Linked DNA regions of Homo sapiens. The protein of the gene in region 2 purifies or fractionates together with the protein of the main gene of each other region. This does not show direct contact. Each region holds a gene or a part of one and is shown on either strand. Other genes may lie near its edges.

The links.
Region 1: the proteins of FAM199X (region 2) and ZNF627 purify together in Homo sapiens (co-immunoprecipitation; one large-scale study listed by IntAct). This does not show direct contact.

Annotation. Positions count from the first base shown.
Region 1 is NC_000019.10:11,603,894-11,607,547, reverse strand, and holds part of ZNF627 (zinc finger protein 627), read right to left. Parts: intron 3,339-3,654; exon of another isoform or gene 3,184-3,338; intron 1-3,183. UniProt on the Homo sapiens protein: May be involved in transcriptional regulation.
Region 2 is NC_000023.11:104,183,385-104,187,038, reverse strand, and holds part of FAM199X (protein FAM199X), read right to left. Parts: intron 974-3,654; coding exon 824-973; intron 580-823; coding exon 418-579; intron 1-417.

The DNA of each region.
Region 1 (3,654 bases), on a different chromosome or scaffold from region 2:
TGACTTACGGTATCTGGTGGAAGAAACTGCTAAGCGGCAAAGCATTCAAGAGGTGACAGAACATTAAAGTTTGGAAAAATTGCAGCCTGACAATGGAACAGAAAAAAAAACCCAGCCAGGCGTGGTGGCTCATGCCTGTAATCCAGCACCTTGGGAGGCTGAGGCAGGCGGATAACCTGAGGTCAGGAGTTTGAGAGCAGCCTGAGCAACATAGAGAAACCCCTTCTCTACTAAATATATAGAATTAGCTGGCCGTGGTGGCACATGCCTGTAATCCCAGCTACTCGGGAGGCTGAGGCAGGAGAATCGCTTGATCCTGGGAGGTGGAGGTTGTAGTGAGCCAAGATTGCGCCATTGCACTCCAGCCTGGGCAACAAGAGTGAAACTCTGTCTCAAAAAAAAAGAAAAGAAAAGAAAAACCCATTTTCTGGGGAGAAATTCAAACCAGCTACAGAAATTTGTGAGTAACGAGAAGCCAAATGTTAATCACCAAGACAATGGAGAAAATGTCTCCAGGACACATCACAGACCTTCATGGCAGCCCCTCCCATCACAGGCCTAGAATCCTAAAAGGAAAAAATGGTTGGTTTCCTGGGCCTGGTCCAGGGCCCCTTGCTGTATGCACCCTAGGGACTTGGTTCCCTGTGCCCAGCCACTCCAGCCATTGCTAAAAGGAGGCAAGGTACAATTCGGGTCATGGCTTCGGAGGGTGCAAGCCCCAAGCCACAGCAGCTGCCATGTGGTGTTGGTCCTGTGGGTGCACAGAAGACAAGAATTGAGGTTTGGGAACCTCTGCCGAGATTTCAGAAGATGTACAAAAACGCCTGGGTGTCCAGGCAGAGGTGTGCTACAGGGGCGGAGCCCTCATGGAGAACCTCTGCTAGGGCAGCGCAGAAGAGAAATGTGGGAACTGGAGCCCCCACAGAGAGTCCCCACTGTGGCACTGCCTAGTAGAGCTGTGAGGAGAGGGCCACCATCCGTCCTCAAGAACCCCAGAATGGTCAATCCACTGACAGTTTGCACCACGCACCTGGAAAAGCCACAGACACTCAGTGCCAGCTGTGAAAGCAGCCAGGAGTGGGGGCTGTACCTTGCAAAGCCACAGGGGCAGAGGTGCCCAAGGTTGAGGGAGCCCACCTCTTGCATCAGCATGACCTGGATGTGAGACGTGGAGTCAAAGGAGATTCTTTTTTTCTTTCTTTTTTTTTTTTGAGACAGAGTCTGGCTCTATCACCCAGACTGGAGTGCAGTGGCATGATCTCGGCTCACTGGAACCTCCGCCTTCTGGGATCAAGCAATTCTCCTGCCTCAGCCTCCCGAGTAGCTGGGATTACAGGCGCGTGCCACCATGCCTAATTTTTTGTATTTTTAATACAGACAGGGTTTCACCATGTTAGCCAGGATGGTCTTGATCTCCTGACCTCATGATCCGCTTGCCTCGGCCTCCCAAAGTGCTGGGATTACAGGTGTGAGCCACCGCGCCTGGCCAAGGAGATTATGTCAAAGCTTTAAGATTTAATTACTGCCCTACTGGATTTGGGACTTGCATAGGGCCTCTAGCCCCTTTGTTTTGGCCAATTTCTCCCATTTGGAATGGGTATATTTACCCAATGACTGTATCTAGGAAGTAGCTAACTTGTTTTTGATTTTACAGGCTCATAGGCAGAAGGGACTTGCCTTGTCTCAGATGAGTTTGGACTTGTACTTTTGAGTTAATGCTGGAATGATTTAAGACTTTGGGGGACTGTTGGGAGGGCATGATTGTTTTAAAATGTGAGGATATGAGATTTGGGAGGGGCTGGGGGTGGAATGATATGGTTTGGCTGTGTCCCCACCCAAATCTCCTCTTGTAGTTCCCATAATCCCTGAATGTCATGGGAGAGAGCAAGTGGGAGATAATTTAATCATTGGGGTGGTTACCTCCATGTTGTTCTCATAATAGTGAGTTCTCATGAGATCTGGTTTTATAATGGGCTTCCCCCACCTTTCCCCCACCTTTAGTCTGCACTTCTCCTTGCTGCTGCCATGTGAAGAAGGACATGTTTGCTTCCCTTCCACCATACTTGTAAGTTTCCTGAGGCCTCCCCAGCCATACTGACCTGTCAATGAAATCTCTTTCCTTTATAAATTACCCAGTCTTGGGTATGTCTTTATTAGCAGCATGAAAACAGACTAATACAGAGCCCTGGGAAAAACTAGGCTGAAGAGGCTGGGCACGGTGGCTCATGAGGTCAGGAGTTCAAGACCACCCTGGCCAAGATGGTGAAACCTTGTCTCTACTAAAAATACAAAAAAAAATTAGTCAGGCCTGGTGGTGGGCACCTGTAACCCCAGCTACTTGGGAGGCTGAGGCAGAGAATTGCTTGAACCTGGGAGGCAGAGGTTGCAGTGAGCCATGATCGCACCACTGCACTCCAGCCTGGGTGACAGAGCAAGACTCCATCTCAAAAAAAAAAAAAAAAAAAAAGAAAGAAAGAAAAACTAGGCTGAAGAGGTCTCAAGTACTCCTTCCTTCACCAAACTTGAGTCAAGCTCCTCAGAGCCCTCTTTTTGACTAGGGCTTGGCACTGGCCTGCAGAAGTCAGTTTCAGCAAGAATCCATCTAAGGTAGTTTATAGAGACTCCTCCTACCTTAATATCCAATCAAGTTCTTTTTCTCCCACCTATGAGACCCAACCAAGTTCCATTCTCTCCCTCACCTTGTACATTGGCTATAAATCCAATAATATTCCTGCTGCATTCAAGGCTGAATTCAATCTCCCTCCCCTATTACAGCTGTCATGACTCACTGCAATTGTGCTTAATAAACTTTTCCTTGACATTCTTAACAAGTTTCCAGTGCAATCTCTCTTTAACAGGGAACAAGGCTGTAAACTTGAGACCCTGGTTCATTTATCTGAAATGCATAGGGGATGACAGGCTCCCTCCCACTGGGGATGAAGGAGCTGGGAACCACACATGCCATTCTGCTGGGCCCACCCAAGTCTGAATCCATGGAGGGGGAGGGTGTCCTGAGAGTACCTCCCACCCACAAACCCAAAACACCAGGCTCAGATTTCTCTCTGGATGGCCACTCCCTGTTGTCACCCCATGATCTGGGTGAGATCCAGGATTGCAGGTGCACAACTGCCCAGAGAGAGGTCCAGGAGGTAGACTGCCTCCTACAGTGATGGGACAGGATACCTGGGAGTCCTGGCTGCCAATTCAGCCCCCACCCTGATGGAGTGTGATGGAGGGGACTGAGACTCAGGCTGCTTCTGGATAAGATGCCCCACCAGACACAGGATTTGCAAGTCGTTCTTCCACTTGGTGAATTATCTTTTCAAGTTCTTGGTGTCCTTTGAAGAACAAAAATTACCAATTTTGATGAAGTGTAAACTTTAGTTAGTAACATATTGGCTCACCAATTCTGATCATCATCATATATGATATATTGGTTCATCAATTATATGATATATATGATATCATATTTACGTACTTTGGGAGGCCAGGATGGGAGAATCACTTGAGCCAGGAGTTAGAGATCAGCCTGGACAACATAGTGAGACCCCCATCTACCAAAAAAAAAAAAAATTAGCCAGATGTGGTGGTGCACACCTGTGGTCCCAGCTACTTGGGAGGCTGAGGCGGCAGGATCACTTGAGCCCTGGAGGT
Region 2 (3,654 bases):
GGTTTCACCCTAGCCTGGCTCAATTATTACTGCATAAAACTACTCAAATCCCTCAGCTGTTTATCAAAGAATAGCTCTCATTAATTAGTATTTTGATTGTCAATTAGTCTCCTGTAAACTGAGTTAGAATAAATCTATACCTTAACCTAACCACTCCGTAAATGGTGACATTAAATTTCAAATCCTATACAACTGAAAAGCAGGTTCTAGATTCACATTGATCCCAGAAAGGTACTGGCAGGTGAGATGTACATAAAACCTCTTAAATCAATGTGCCATCATTTTTTCTAATATTACCTTTCGCAGCAGTGATTTTGGCCTTAATTATCTATGTATTTACACATGATTATTTTAGTCTACATTTTATAAGATGGTGGTATTTTTAATAGGTAAATAATCTGTATTTTCTTTACATACCTGCTTCAGTTTTTCATCTGTGAGACAGTTAAGTTCAATAATAAACTCACTGTCTGTAGGGGAGATTTGAGCAGAAGGATCAATGATCTTAATAATATCAAGTTGCTCCCGAAGACCCATCTCAGTACTCACTTTCCGACTCAGATACTCAATATATTCCACCTATGTGATGAAAAAATTACAATAAGATCATTGCTAAAACTTCTGATCCTTTATTATGTCAATTATAATGTGTTTACATAGCAGAAGCACTTAAGGTTATATTTGTTCCCTGAAAAACCGTTAAAGCTCAAATTCAGATTTACTAAGCAATCCACATTTCCCCAGTAGCTTTAAACAGGCAATAAACTGAGCTTTACCTAGTCTCCACATAAAAGCTTTTAATTAAGAATGTCAAGATCTTTACCTGCTCATCATTTGTCATTGCACTCCAAGGGAGTTCATCTAAATTCCGGTGCTTGTTTTTCTTTTTAGGAAGCAGGCAAGGTGAACTTGGAATACTGGGTATGACATCAGAAAGTACATCACTCCCACTGGCAATGTCACTGCCTGGTAACTTTATAAAAATAAGGAGGGTGTGGGGAAGGAAAGCAAAATTTGTTCAGACTACATTTTAAATACTACAATATATTTTCCACATCGATTAAAAGTTAGTTTATGAGACTGACGTGCTGCTGGCTGTGCTAAGAGGGCTTCCTTTAATATAAGACTAATGGCAGCCCGGCGTGGTGGCTCATGCCTGTAATCCCAGCACTTCGGGAGGCCAAGGCAGGTGGATCACCTGAGGTCAGGAGTTCGAGACCAGCCTGGCCAACATGGTGAAACCCTGTCTCTACTAAAAATACAAAAATTAGCTGGGTGTGGTGGCCTGTGCCTGTAGTTACTCGGGACACTGAGGCAGGAGAATCGCTTGAACCTGGGAGGTGGAGGTTGCAGTGAGCCGAGATGGTGCCACTGCACTACTCCAGCCTGGGAGATAGTCAGACTCCATCTCAAAAGAAAAAAAAAGAAAAAAGACTAATGGCAAATATAGAATCAGAGGACATTAATTCTGATCCATGCCTATTTTATACAAAGCAGCAACATAAGTATATAAATATATATTCTTTGCATATAGTTATTCAATGAAAGATGTTTTTGAAAAGCTTAGACTCATAATCAAGACTTATTAAAATGGTAACCGAAGAGTCAATCATCATTAAAGTTTTTAATGTATAATGAGAATATGACTAGGGCCTCCACACTGTAATGAAAAAGAAGCACTGGTCTCCATCTGGGGAGACCTGAATGATGTGCCACTAACTGGCTTTTTGCCAGAGACTGTGCTAAACATATTGTCAATATAAAGACAAATACATCTTGGTCTTTGACCTCAAGTCTGTATTAGTGACCTCAAGACAATTAAAATAAATTAAGGCCGGGCAAAGTAGCTCACGCCTGTAATCTCAGCACTTTGTGAGGCAGAGGCAGGAGGACTGCTTGAGCCTAGGAGTTCAAGACCAGCCTAGGCAATGTGGCGAGACCCCGTCTCTCTAAAAAAAAAAAAAAAAAAAAAAAAATTATCATGCCTGTAATTCCAGCATTTTGCAAGGCTGAGGTGGGAGGATCGCTTGGGCCCAGGAGTTCCAGAGCAGCCTGTCCAACATAGCGAGACCTCATCTCTATTAAAAAAAAAAAGAAAGGAAAAAAAATTAGTTGGGTGTGGTGACACATGCCTGTGGTCTGAGATGTAAGGATCGCTTGAACCTGGGAGGTTGAGGCTGCAATGAGACGTGTTTGTGCCACTGCATACCAGCCTGGACGACAGAGTAAGACTCAGTCTCAAAAAATAAATAAATAATAAAATAATTTTAAATATGCTGTTAAAATAAAGTAAAACACTTTAAGAACCAGAAGTATTACAAGAGAAAAATTAGAAAAAAATCATAGAAGACAAAGTGTAGACAAAGGAGGAATAAAAGCAAGCCTAACATACAGAAAATCAATTTAAGACAAACAGCAAAAATACATGCTATAATTTTATATATATTTATGTATACTTTTGCACATATGCATATACTCAAGTATATGCATGGTCACCGCCATGACCAAGGTTATAAATATATCCATTACCTCCAAAAGTTAGAATGGATTTAATTTTAAATAAATATATTTAAGTCATTCATCAAAAAGGTAAAGTCTTTTCTTCTACAAGGAGCAAATGACAATTTTCAAATATACTGACTTCATTTTTACAAGGTATAAAACAGTACCTTTTTGCTGTGTTTTGGTTCTATAGAGCTTGCAACTGTATCTGAACTCTGGATGATTTCTAGGCTTCTGCGGTTACCAAAAAAGCGAAGAGCTACTTTAGTCATGAAGACTATTGTGATCACATGTATTTGAACTCCTACTTTGTACACAGCAGTATAATAGGTACAGGGGATTCAAAGCAGTGTTAAGTCCTTACACAAAAACTTTACTTGGGAAAGTAATACAATAACACAGACATACAATTATACAACACAGCACATGATGAATGCTAGGTTTCAGATGACAGGTCATCAATGGAAATATCTAGCAGTGGGCTGAAGCTGCAGGATTAAAGTTTGGGAGAGTTGCAATGGACTGCAGGCAGGCACTGGGGAATCAATCACAAAGAAATACATGAAACCACAAAGATAGGAGTCAATCACTATGCAAAAGATGACTATGATGTTTAAAATGAAATTGTCTAAGAGAGAGGCCATTCTTTCTACACCCCCATAAGTAGCTACTACTCTTAAAAACCACATTTTCACTATGACAGTTATTGACAAGTCCAAGTACATAAGTGACTACCAACAATCTGTATAACTTCTTTTAAAATCTCATTAACGGCTGGGCGCAGTGGCTTATGCCCGTAATCCCAGCACTTTGAGAGGCGGAGGTGGGTGGATCATCTGAGGTCAGGAGTTCGAGACCAGCCTGGCCAACATGGCAAAACTCCGTCTCTACTAAAAATACAAAAATTAGCTGGGTGTGGTGGTGCGCACCTGTAATCCCAGCTACTCAGGAGGCTGAAGTAGGAGTATCGTTTGAACCCAGGAGGTGGAGGTTGCAGTGAGCCGAGATCGTGCCACTGCACTCCAGCGTGGGAGACAGAGCGACCATCTCAAAAAAAAAAACAAAAGAAAACAAAACATAAAATCTCATTAACTAACACTGCTTGAACTGTTCACCCTTGACCCTAATTGTTATCTAGGTGGTGTTATGAAA